Linked DNA regions of Homo sapiens. The protein of the gene in region 1 purifies or fractionates together with the protein of each later gene. This does not show direct contact. Each region holds a gene or a part of one and is shown in the gene's direction. Other genes may lie near its edges.

The links. The genes of interacting proteins can lie anywhere in the genome.
Region 2: the proteins of SRGAP3 (region 1) and HCN1 purify together in Homo sapiens (co-immunoprecipitation; one large-scale study listed by IntAct). This does not show direct contact.
Region 3: the proteins of SRGAP3 (region 1) and SMCHD1 purify together in Homo sapiens (affinity purification with mass spectrometry; one large-scale study listed by BioGRID and IntAct). This does not show direct contact.
Region 4: the proteins of SRGAP3 (region 1) and SPAG5 purify together in Homo sapiens (affinity purification with mass spectrometry; 3 studies listed by BioGRID and IntAct, with this or other methods). This does not show direct contact.

What each region holds. Positions count from the first base shown.
Region 1 is NC_000003.12:9,061,147-9,064,646, reverse strand, and holds part of SRGAP3 (SLIT-ROBO Rho GTPase-activating protein 3), read left to right. Parts: intron 1-65; coding exon 66-251; intron 252-3,500. UniProt on the Homo sapiens protein: GTPase-activating protein for RAC1 and perhaps Cdc42, but not for RhoA small GTPase. May attenuate RAC1 signaling in neurons.
Region 2 is NC_000005.10:45,256,915-45,259,380, reverse strand, and holds part of HCN1 (potassium/sodium hyperpolarization-activated cyclic nucleotide-gated channel 1), read left to right. Parts: 3' UTR 1-2,466. UniProt on the Homo sapiens protein: Hyperpolarization-activated ion channel that are permeable to sodium and potassium ions. Displays lower selectivity for K(+) over Na(+) ions.
Region 3 is NC_000018.10:2,802,122-2,805,517, forward strand, and holds the end of SMCHD1 (structural maintenance of chromosomes flexible hinge domain-containing protein 1), read left to right. Parts: intron 1-406; coding exon 407-431; coding exon of another isoform or gene 432-514; 3' UTR 515-2,896; downstream 2,897-3,396. UniProt on the Homo sapiens protein: Non-canonical member of the structural maintenance of chromosomes (SMC) protein family that plays a key role in epigenetic silencing by regulating chromatin architecture.
Region 4 is NC_000017.11:28,585,526-28,589,025, reverse strand, and holds part of SPAG5 (sperm-associated antigen 5), read left to right. Parts: intron 1-2,526; coding exon 2,527-2,601; intron 2,602-2,843; coding exon 2,844-2,936; intron 2,937-3,027; coding exon 3,028-3,162; intron 3,163-3,372; coding exon 3,373-3,492; intron 3,493-3,500. UniProt on the Homo sapiens protein: Essential component of the mitotic spindle required for normal chromosome segregation and progression into anaphase. Required for chromosome alignment, normal timing of sister chromatid segregation, and maintenance of spindle pole architecture.

The sequences.
Region 1 (3,500 bases):
AGTAACAGGGAGGGCCGTGCTGGGCCATAGCTGGCTGCTGATTTCCCCTACTTGTGCACCCCCAGGTCATGAAAACCTACCACATGTACCATGCAGAGAGCATCAGTGCGGAAAGCAAGCTGAAGGAGGCTGAGAAGCAGGAGGAGAAGCAGTTCAATAAGTCAGGAGACCTCAGCATGAACCTGCTCCGGCACGAGGACCGGCCCCAGCGCCGCAGCTCTGTGAAGAAGATTGAGAAGATGAAGGAGAAGGTGAGTGGGGGCCCTGGGCTGGGAGCGATTGGGGACAGGGCACAAAGGGGAGGGCCATGGTCTTGGCGGACAGCCTTAGCCTTCCCCCTTATTCCCCTGCATCCCAGTGGGGTGGTGGTGGGTAGGGGGGATGGGACAATGTAGCCAGCATCTCCTCTTTTGGAGATCGGTGTCCTAGTGGAAGCGGAGCCAGGCATGCCCGTGCTAACACTGGTTAGGCCTGGCTTAGTGCTAAGGTCAGCAGGCAGACGAGGTGCTCAACTCACAAGAAAGCTGAACTGTGACGAGATTCACACCCAGCAAGCACCTTCTCAGATGAGCTGGAATCACAAGGCATTAGCGGGAGCAGGGGCTTGTTCCAGAGGCCAATTTGATGGCCAAGGGTAGGGGCGGGGGGTGAGGTGGGAACTGATTGCTGAATGTGTCTCAACAAGAGGGACCAGCACCTGGAAAGCTGGTGAAGGGCTCATTCCAAAATTGCCATTGCCAATTCAAAGATGAGAGAGTTAGAATCCCTGTGTATTGATTCTGGAAAAGTCCTTTAGTAGGGTGTGGTGGGAGGAATTCTAGCTTTGGAGTCAAATGAGCTGGGTTTTGAAAATGCCACGTTTACAACACCTCTCTGAGCTGCAGTTTTCAAATCTGATAGGAGTGGCAAATTCGTCTCATCTCTCATGTCAACTCTGATCAATTGCCCAGAGCACTGGGCTGAGAATTGTGAAACTCGAAACAGATTTAGTTAAAAACAGTGCTGTAGGGCTGGCCACAGTGGCTCATGCCTGTAATATCAGCACTTTGGGAGGCCAAGGCGGGAGGATCGTTTGAGCCCAGGAGTTCGAGACCAGCCTGGGTAAAATGGCAAAATTCCATCTCTATTTATGAAAAAAAAAAGGCAAAGAATTTGAATAGATGTTGCTCTTAAAAAAACATGTATGAGTGGCCAATAAGTACATGAAAAGATTGTCTGGGCCAGGCATGGTGGTTCACACCTGTAATCCTAACACTTTGGGAGGCCAAGGTGGTCAGATAGTTTGAGCCCAGGAGTTCGAGACCAGGTTGGGCAACATGGCAGAACCCTATCTCTACAAAAAATAGAAAAATTAGGCAGGTGTGGTGGCATGTGCCTGTAGTCCCAGCCACTTGGGAGGCTGAGGTAGGAGGATTACCTGAGGGAGGTCAAGGCTGCAGTGAGCCATGATCACATCACTGCACTCCAGCCTGGGCAACAGAGTAAGACCCTGTCTCAAAAAAAAAAAAAAAAAAAAAAAAAAGATTGTCTCTATTATTAGTGATTAAAGAAATGCAAATCAAACTCAGTGAACTATCACTTCATACCCACAGGGATAGCTAGAATTAAAAAGGCAGACTATAGGAAGTATTGGTGAGAATGTGGATAAATTGGAATCTTCACACACTACTAAAGGGAATGTACAGTGATTCTATCACTTTGGAAAGCAGTCTAAATGTTAAACATAGACTAAGTTACCATGTGACTCAACAATTTTATTCCTAGGTATCCACCCAAGAAAAATAAAAACATATGTCCATTCAAAGACTTGTACATGAATAGCAGCATTATTCTTAATAGCCAAAAGATGGAAATGACTCAGATGTTCATCTGCTGATGGATGGTTGAATAAAATGTGGTATATCCATGTGATGGAATATTATTCAGCCATGAAAAGGAATGAAGTACTGACAAATGCTGCAACATGGATGAACCTTGAAAACAGTATGCTAAATGAAAGAAGTCAGTCACGGAAGACCACATATTGTGCAACTACATTTATGAAATGTCCAGCATAGACAAATCTATGGAAATAGAAAATAGATGATTGGTTTCCAGGGGCTAAAGAAGAGGAAAATGGGGAGTGACTGTGAATGGGTGCAGCATTTCTTTCTGGGGTGATGAAAATATTCTAAAGTTAGATAATGATGATGGTTGTGTGACTCTGTGAATACAGTAAAAATAAATAAAAATAAAATAAAATAACCAAGCAGGGAATGATAGGACTACAACATAGGGAGAAGGAGAGAGGTAGAGTGAGTGCTGACTGGAAGTCCAGAGGCCGATTTTTAGTTCAGAGTTGTATTTTTGGTTCGATTAGCTACTTGGCTCTTGGGCAAGCCACTTCTCTCCAGTTCTCATTTCCTCATCTATAAAATAGATGAGTTTAATGAAAATACCTTTAACATCCTTTCTAGGTATAACATTTTATGAGTCTATGAAGGGCTAAAAAATGGTCTCAGGGTCATGGTCATAGTTGTCCACTGGAAATAGGCCAAGAATATCAAAACTCTCTGTGGGGGGTCAGGTGCATGGCTGGCGTAGGATGTAACTGCCAGGACCCTGGGGAAAAGTTAGAGATCTCTGAAGAGAATTAAAAGGATGAGAACTCACTGTGGAATAGGAAGGTGTAAGAATGTCTAGGCAAAGGAGAAAAACCATTTATTTACAGAGACCTGACTTTTTACACAGCAATGGGACTCATCAGTCTGAAAGGAGCAGGGGACAGCTCTCCAGCCCACTTCCTCTTTCCTGCTCCATTCCCAGGCTGGCTTAGCCAGGAGCAGCTCCCTGGGGGGCAATTGGGTCCCTGCTGAGATGGGCGGCTCTGGCTGCCCCACCCCACCTCTCCCATCCAGTCATCCTCCCTCCCTCCTGTCCTCCAGTCACTGAAAATGACTGAAAATGACCTTGTGCAGGGACAGTTCTGGGCGCTCCAGACCTAGCAATGAACAAAGCAGATCAAGTCCCTAACCCCACTTATTTTCTAATGGGAGATCACTGACAATCAACAAGTAAATAAAAGGGTAGAAAAAAATACAGTTTCAGGTGGTGGAAGTGCTTATTAAGAAAAGAGCCGGGCAGGGGTGGGCAGAGGGAGTGGGAGAGGTAGATGAGCTTGTCATCGAAAGCCAATCTGGCCTTGAGACCTTGGGCCAAGGCTGAGGGAACCATGAGTTTGAGGGCCTTGAGACAGGAATGAATTTTGCCTCTTAAAGGATGGACCAAGGAGGCTGAGCAAATGAGGGGGAGCCTGGGGGAAGGTGGAGCTTGAGAAGTGGATGGGACAAGGCCATGGAGGGCTTCTCAGGTGCGAGCAGCAGTTTGAGACATCACTGGAGGGTGCTGGGTAGGGGTCTTATTGATTGATTGATTGAGACGGAGTCTCCCTCTGTCACCTAGACCTGGAGTGCAGTGGTGCAATCTCTGCTTACTGCAACCTCTGCCTCCTGGGTTCAAAT
Region 2 (2,466 bases), on another chromosome or scaffold:
ATAGAATAGCTGATTCTTACAACAACTGTATGATCAGGGATGAGTTAGAGTATTTCTTTTGTCTTTGCTCAAAGCCATACATATATAAATATATATAAAGATTATTAATAAATTCAACAAAAAATAAACTACAATCATGAATATTTTATTTTATCAATATATGCTAATCAAATGTTTTATTTTATTAATGAGTACAGCTTTGCCTCTATTTTTACATCATAAAATTTCCAAGAGCTTATACTTGATAATCACATAAAATCAATTATATTCTATAATTCTGGAATGAGAGGACTTTAAATAGAACATGGATTTTTCAACCACTTCTTTGTTTACCTTTTTCGTATAGTAAAATATGAGCTTATTTTCTTTTTTGCTCTGTGCCTTTTTAGAATGTGGTTGTTCTCCAACTTCAAAACACAACCATTTTGTGTAATTATTGGATATACAGATGAGAAATAATTTTCCTGTAATAATGGTAAATAATTGTCCTGTAATATATTTATACAAACCTATTTTGTTATAATAGTTCTATGACATACCTATTTTGTTATAATAGTTTTATAACATACCTATTTTGTTATAATAGGGCCTTGGGCTCTATTATAACAAAACAGGTTTATATAAATACATTCATATTTATAGCCTTAAACAAAATAGGTTTGTATAGTAGGCCCAAGGCCCTATTATAACAAAATAGGTTTGTATAAATATATTCATATTTATAGCCTTGGGCCCTGCAAAGTTATTTGGAGAGTGATAGAACCTCCCCACACAAGTGGGTTTTAAATGATACCTAAAAGCCTGAGATAGAGTTTATCATAATGAGAATAAGTAGTGAAGCATTCCTGAAAACAAGGAGGATAAATAGTAGCAATGGCAATATATTCTATTCACCAAAAAAGTAGCTTGTCTCCAGGTCTGGATGACCTCTTCATAAGTGAACAATTCCCTGATGAATGCTGTTCCACTTTAAAGAGATGGTTATTTTGCAATTTATAAACTTAACTGAGCATACTATTTTCAGGACACTACAAAGTACATAGTCAAGTTATTACCGTCATTCCTATAGGACAGAGAATGATTTAAACAATATGACATGTTTAAAATTTTAGATGATTTATTTCAAATCCTGAATTATGTCTACTTCAAATTATGAGCAATCTCTATTATCTTTCAGGACTATTTAAAAAATCTCCATACCTCCTCTTTCAGCTTAGGTTTTTATATTTGTTAATTTTACTATGTTACTTTGCTTCTATGGCCCTCACTTGCACTGTTTATAATGTTAACCTGTTTGAATGAGATATCTCTCCATTATATCTTTATCTTTTTAGAACATGTGCCATAAAACCCATGTGGTTATTTTGTTCATATGCACTACAACTAGCAAACTTTTATTTTATGTTCACCTACTTTAAAAAGTACTCATACTGTACCATGGGAAAGAAACATGGGCCTTATAGAATGGAATGCTGAGCTATTTTGAGTCCTGAAAACAATGGCCAAAAATTTAAGGAACTGTGGTTGCTGCATGCACCAAATTGTAGCACATACAAATAAATAAAATACAGTTCTATAACTGTATTCAATATGGTTATTTTCAAGGAAAAATAGGATAGAAATTTTCTTTGAAAGATTTGCTATTGTACTTAGGGAAGTACACCTGCTATTACCCCTCAAAAGCAATGACTTTCTTAAGCAATTTCAATTTTTTTCCTTTTTAACAACCCTGCACTTGCACAACCCTGCATCTCTTGTCTCACCCTAATGCTGACCCTGCTTCCAATTCAGGCTTTGACAGGGACAAATGGAGATTTTAAGGTTTTTTAATGAGAGAAGCCTTGCTGACACTCCCCGCATCCCACCTTGAAAATTATTTAAAGATGATCTTAAAAGAACCTACAGATAATGCTCTGAATTTGTTTACAAGGTCCTTGATGTGGAGAGAATGAGTAATACATTAAATGCTGGGGAAATAATTATCATTTAGTGAAAAATTAAGCATGCTTTTCTAAAATGTGGATGTTTAACAGAGCACAGCTGATTGGGAACACTGGCAGTTCAATGCAGCTGGAGTGTCTCACAGGGTGAAGAGGAACCCAGATCAAGTGGGAAATAGGGATTTCAAAAACCTTCTGAAAGGCTTTTAACATCAGGGCAAAGGTTTTACAGTGTTGTACTTTATATTCTTAATTTAAGCTTATCAACGGGGAGGATTCACATTGAAATGTCTGTTTTGCTAATGTAACAAGGAATAAAATAATTTATGACACAGCAAAAACTGGGGGCTATTTACAACCCCACCCTGCCTTGTGAGGATGCTGGGTCCTAAGGAAGGTCCTAGGTTTGCTAAATAGAGTAATGGGAATAGGAAACTGAAAGTTTACTTGCTTTGCGTAAGATAATATATTGCGGCAGGGAAGGGGTACAAGAAGATAAGAGCTAGAACCTGTGAGAAGGGAAAGA
Region 3 (3,396 bases), on another chromosome or scaffold:
ATTATGAATATTAAATGTTTTATTTTGCTTGTCTTTGTTACTTTTCTGTAATAAGCATTATAATTCCTGTTCTTAAAATAATAAGTTCATTTAAGGAAAAGGGGGTGAAAGGAAAAATCTGCAGAATTTAGGTCTGAGATAATACCATTTCAAAGCACTGTGATACAAATTACTTATATATGTTATATACTGTGTGTGTGTTAACTACTTTTATTTGGGGGCTTGTTTTGCATACATGTGAAGGAAATGATTATATATAAGGATTTAATTAAATCTGTTTATACCAAGAATTATATTTAAAAGAATATGGTTTCATTGGATATTTAAGCATTCAGGTGTGATGAGGGAATTCAGGGAAAGGAAACCTTTGGTACATAAAACTTTTTTTTCTTTCCCCTTTGACCAGGATTATAACCAAAACAGATGTATGAGAGGTGACAGAGAGAAGAGGCCATTGGTCTCAGTAAGAATGCCCTGCTTTCTGCATCTCTGTTTCAGAAGACCAAGAGGGTGACTTACCAGACTGAGTATTTCTGGGGACAATACAAGTACCTGGGCATGAATTTCCATTTCGATTCAGATGGGACTGGAAACAACCATTCAATTTTATGAATCTTACTGGACATTATGGATTTACTGGAATTATTCCAGACATTATGCCCTTTGGTTGTCACTACCTTGCAAATGTGTAAGAGGAAAATGTGCTAATGTGGCAGTGACTGTAAAACTGGCACATGGCATTTATTAATCCTGAAGAAAAGTACATGTACTATTTTTCAGTATAAATATAATGAACATGTCAGAACTATTTCTTGAAAACCTTTTTATTACTTTTGCGTGAATTTATTTAACAAAGATGTTTTGTCTTTTGTGTAAGGGAGGTTCTAGAGGCTAGATGTTTAATTGTAAATATGTGAGGAAACTCAATGCAGAATTCAGGATAAAAATTTTAAAAGCACAGGTATTTGGGAATTGAAATGTTAAGATACCCAGAACAACATTAAATCAATGAGTGAACTTGTGACAGTGGTAGCATTTCAAATTTCAAAAGACTTATCCTGTGTGTGTGTGTGTGTGTATATATATATATATATATAAATATATATATATAAAATATTCAGCAGCACCAAGTTTTATAACTATTGTTTGTTTGACTTTATTAATACTAGAATATGTAGTCTCAGCCTTAATTTTACATTTACATTATTTTGTAATTTTTTATTACTATTTTTAAGGGGTTAAAGAGAACATACATTCTCACATTAGTGTACTTTCTGGTAGAAAGTTGCTGCAAAAACATTTGAAATGTATATTAACCTAATGTATGTCATATATATGTCTTTGTGTAAGTTCAAGACTATTGATCTGTGAAGTTATTTTGTAAGGACATACATTTGGTAAGTAAGTTTGTGTCCCAGGAAATGTATGTGTTTTTAAACCCTTTCTAAATATGCAGGCCATTAATAAATAAGATTGTTTCTTCCCTACTGAATAGATAAGTGTTTTTCTTTTTTAAAATTGGAAGCTTCATAAAAGTTATCTTGTTAAAAAACGATGATGATGTTAACCTATCTATCTTTATAATTGGAAATTATTTAAACTGTTTGTTGTTACAGAAGAAACAAAATGGTAATTACAGAATTAGCTGTGGGGAAGATTGGCTCCCATGGTACTACAGGTTGAGTATCCCTTATTCAAAATGGTTGGGACCTGAAGTGTTTTGGATTTTGGTTTTTTGTGGGGTTTTTAAATTATTATTTTGGAATATTTGCATTATATTTACCAATTTAGCATCCCTAATCCAAAAATCTTTCATTAGAAATTGGAAATGCTTCAATGAGCATTTCCCTTATGTGTCATATCTGCGCTCAAATGTTTTGAATTTTGGAACATTTCTTGTTTCTGACTTTTAGATTAGGGATACTCACCCCGTACCAATATTTGGAGTCCTTAGACATTAGATTATATGAAAATGATTGATTGATAGGTAAGAAAGGTTAAAGAGAAATGACTTTTTAGGAACTAGACTTGAACGTATAATTAATATGTGGAACTAGTTTGCTTTTATAATTCATTGTATCAAGAAGGAGTCATGTTTTAAATCCAAGGCATTGAGACTATCTAGAAGCAAAAAAGTTGGTTTTAAAAATTCTTTTTATTAGAAGTGTGTTTAAAAACATGTCTTTTTTTCCCTTGAGCGACAGTGGCCTCACTACATTGCCCAGGCTAGTCTTGAACTCCTGGGTTCAAGCAGTCTTCCTGCCTTGGCCTCCTAAGTAGCAGGGATTACAGGCATGCACCCACATGCCAATTTTTATTGCTTAAAATGGCGAGTTCTATGGATATTATCTAGCCCCAAGCCCATATCTGTACACTTTTGTTCATTTTATAATACCAGAAAGAATGTTCTATCAGTAAAAGAAGGTTTTTAAGTATGAATCTCCATTTTTGTGGAGTTTTTCTACCCTGTAAAAATTAACTTTGTGGTTCCCAGTAATTACAGTAAGGAGTTTTTCTATATTTTCACAGTTGGATTTATCTAAGGATATTTCTCAGCATATTAAGGAATCCTTTTCTACATTTGAGCAAATACTGAGGTTCATGTTGTACCAAATAATAATAAATTGCTTTTGTGTTTAATATGTAACACGTAAGAACAATTGAAATTTTCTTCTAAGATTTAATACTAGTCTTTTAGTATAAAGGAATGTAACTGGAGAAAAAAATTAATGCTACAGCCATTTATCCTGTGTTATGTGTTATATAATCTGAAATTTGTCACAATGTTACAATCAGGAAGTTTTTTTTCTGGTTTCTTCTTCCAAAGGAAAATAATAGCCTACTTGTATTTTGAAGTAACTGAAATAAAACTCTCTCCAAGCCTTTTTGCACATTACGTTCATCAGTTTTCATGTGTACATTTGGCCAGGCCTATGGTAAAAATAGGCTCAATTTACTTAACATTTTTATAGGGTTTTTGGTATAAGATTCTTTACAGAGACTAAAATTTGTTGCATATATAACATTCAGATTATTTTAAGTGAAATTGGCTCCTATTGTTAAATATTAGTGCTAAGGAAAGTTCAGTCTTCTAAACTGTCTATACTTTGGCTCTGTGACTTGATTACTTTATAGTCATTATGAAATTGATGGGGTTAATTCCATTGTATTTTTAGTATAGAATTTTCAAATAATACATTTTAGTAAAAAAATTGAATGTTTAATTTTCATACTGTGAAACTGGTGAAAAATATTAAAAACAACCATTTAAAACTTCTGGAAATGGTCCTGAGGACAAATGGCAATGAAGAAACATCTATTCAAGAACATTTACAAAAATTCAGTAAGGAAGATGAGAATCTGTGGTAGTTTGAACCAAGACTGACTACTCACTTC
Region 4 (3,500 bases), on another chromosome or scaffold:
TTTTGCAGGAAATATTAGAGGAAAGTAGCTAAAAGACCACTGTTGGCCCAATGTGGTGGCTCACGCTTATAATCCCAGCACTTTGGGAGGCTGAGGCCGGCAGATCACTTGAGGCCAGGAGTTTGAGACCAGCCTGGCTAACATAGTGAAACCCCATCTCTATTAAAAATACAAAAGTTAGCTGGGTATGGTAGTGCACTCCTGTAATCCCAGCTACTTGGGTGGCTGAGGCATGAGAATTGCTTGAACCTAGGAGGTAGAGGTTGCAGTGAGCCGAGATCACCCAGTGTACTCTAGCCTGGGCAACAGAGTGAGGCTGTCTCAAACAACAACAACAACAATGTTCTAGAGGATTGTATTACAACACAGGCCTAAGAAGGAAGGGAATGGTGGCAGGTGAAGGAATTGATAGCACCTCACCATTGTGGCTGTTGAGATAATAGGTGGCTGCTGCTAAGAAGAGATGGTCCCCAAATGTGCAGAGACCTCCTTTGAGTTGAAAATATCCTCAAAGTAATGACCTTACCATTTGCCAAAAATCCTGGAAACCATAAGCTCCATGTTCCTCCAGCTGTTCAATTTCCCTCCTGTTTTCTTATCTTTGTGTCCTTTCCTCTTGTTCTTGACCTTGTTTCCCATCCCTGAATCTGCCATGCATCCTCTTCCCCTGAAGGTTGCCAGGTCCCTTTGTAGGCCACTGAAGCAGAACCAAAGAGGGGAAATGACATACCTTTAGCCATTCTCCATCAGCATGCCATGTCCTTGCTGCCTGGCTGCCTCCTTCACATTAATCTCATCACCTGCCTGACTGTCCAGCTGAGCACGATGTGAGCCCTATCCAAGCTCATGTGCTACTCTGTGCCTTATTTCACGATGCAGCAGTGAATGATAACTGCTTTGCTGGGGAAGGGAGCCATGAACTCCAAGAAATCAGCAGTGCTGCTCCAGTAGTAACTTTTCCCCCAGATGATGGCTGCCTTGCCTCAGTAATGAAGACTCCCACTTTTCTCTTAGAACTTGTCTTCTGGGGTTCTACTGCCTTTGAGATCATACCTACTTACTCTATGCATACTATGAGTTTTATCTATCTGACCCAGGATAATGAGCAGACAATTAAGAAAGTAAAAATGATGAATAAATACCTAAGAAGGTTAGCATTATTGGCAATAAAAAATGCAAATTGAACAGTGAGATGCCATTTTCTTGTGACTCAATAGCAAAGAATAAAATAGGTAATGCTGGTAAGCATACTCTATTTATCTGCAGGATATAAATTGGTTCATCCTTTTTTTTTTTTTTTTTTTTTTTGAGACGAGGTCTCACTCTGTTACCCACACTGGAGTGCAGTGGCACGAACATGGCTCACTGCAGCCTCTACCTCCTGGGCTCAAGGGATCCTCCCACCTCAATCCAGCTGAGTAGCTGGGAATATAGGCATGTGCCACCATGCCTGGCTAATGAAAAAAAATTTTTTTTTTTTGAGACGGAGTTTTACTCTTGTTGCCCAGGCTGGGGTGCAGTGGCGTAATCTCGGCTCACTGCAACCTTGCCTCCCGGTTTCAAGTGATTCTCCTGCCTCAGCCTCCGGAGTAGCTGGGATTACAGGCACGTGCCACCACGCCTGGCTAATTTTGTAGTTTTAGTAGACATGGGGTTTCTCCATGTTGGTCAGGCTGGTCTCGAACTCCCGACCTCAGGTGATCCGCCCGCCTTGACCTCCCAAAGTGCTGGGATTACAGGTGTGCGCCACCGCGCCCAGCCTTTTTTTTTTTTTTTTAGAGATGGGGTTTCACTGTGTTGCCCAGGCTGGTCTTGAACTCCCGGACCCAAGTGATCCTCCTGCCTCAGCCTCTGAAGGTGCTGGGATTACAGGCATGAGTCACTGTGCCTGGCTAAACAAAGAAATTTTTTACCTACCTGTGGATTTTTCTTTCTGACTTGGCTTCATTGAATTGAGTACTTTGCTTCTGCTTTTAATAGGAAAGGTGGCTGGGTGTGGCAGGAGCACTTTGGAAGTCCGAGGCAGGAGGACTGTTTGAGGCCAGGAGTTTGAGACCAGCCAGGGCAACATAGCAAGACCTCATCTCTACAGAAAATAAAAAATAAATAAAATAGGAAAGGCTCCTATAACTCACTGGGTGGGAGGAAGAATGAGGTGCTGGTGGTACATGTTGCCTACTCAAAAGGAACAACTTGGCTGGTCATGGTGGCTCACCCCTGTAATCCCAGCACTTTGGGAGGCCGAGTCGGTGGATCACTTGAGGCCAGGAGTTCAAGACCAGCCTGGCCAACATGGTGAAACCCCGACTCTACTAAAAATATACAAATTAGCTGGGTGTGGTAGTGCATGCCTGTAATCCCAGCTACTTGGGAGGCTGAGGCATGAGAATTGCTTGAACCTGGGAGGTGGAGGTTGCAGTGAGCTGAGATTGTGCCACTGCACTCCAGTCTGGATGATAGAGCAAGACTCTGTCTCAAAAACAAACAAACAAACAAAACAAGGAACAACTCTGTTTTTCTGGCTAGATAACTAATAAACTTCAGCATCTTAAGGAGAGCCATGAGATGGGACAGGCCCTACAGCAGGCCAGAAATGTCATGGTAAGTGATGATTGACCTTACACCACCACTGGGTCTCCTGTGAAGATGAAGAATGGAGAATCCTGGGTGGTTAGTAGATGGTGATACTAAGTCGTGGTGGTGAAGGGAGGTTTCCAAACATTTGTAAAGTACATCTCCTTATGCGGAGCTTGGAATTGGGGTTAGCGGTTTTCCTCCCCAGTGCCCCTGTTTCCTGCTTAGTGACTTTATTTGATCTCACCTACCCATTTTTTTCTCTACAGCAATCATGGGTGCTTATCTCTAAAGAGCTGATATCCTTGCTTCACCTATCCCTGTTGCATTTAGAAGAAGATAAGACTACTGTGAGTCAGGAGGTAAGCAGCCTGAAGATGGAGGTGGAGGCCTGTGGTGGGACTAAAAGCCATAAAGAGGAACCAGACACATTAACTGATTCTTACCATATAGTCTCGGCGTGCAGAAACATTGGTCTGTTGCTGTTTTGATTTGCTGAAGAAATTGAGGGCAAAGCTCCAGAGCCTCAAAGCAGAAAGGGAGGAGGCAAGGCACAGAGAGGAAATGGCTCTCAGAGGCAAGGATGCGGTAAGGTGACAGGCATTTGTTCTTGGATGTGGGAGGTTTCCACCTCAAGGTTCCTGCAGGAACACAAATGCACTTTAGACACAGATGGGTGGCCTAAGAACTGCCTGCCCTGGGCAGTAAAGAACTGATCTATTGAGGTGTCATGGTTACATCTTTTTGTGCTGGCTCCCCTGTTGCCCACTGTGGCCTTGCAACCACTTCCCTCAATAGGCAGAGATAGTGTTGGAGGCTTTCTGTGCACACGCCAGCCAGCGCATCAGCCAGCTGGAACAGGACCTAGCATCCATGCGGGAATTCAGAGGCCTTCTGAAGGATGCCCAGACCCAACTGGTAATTTA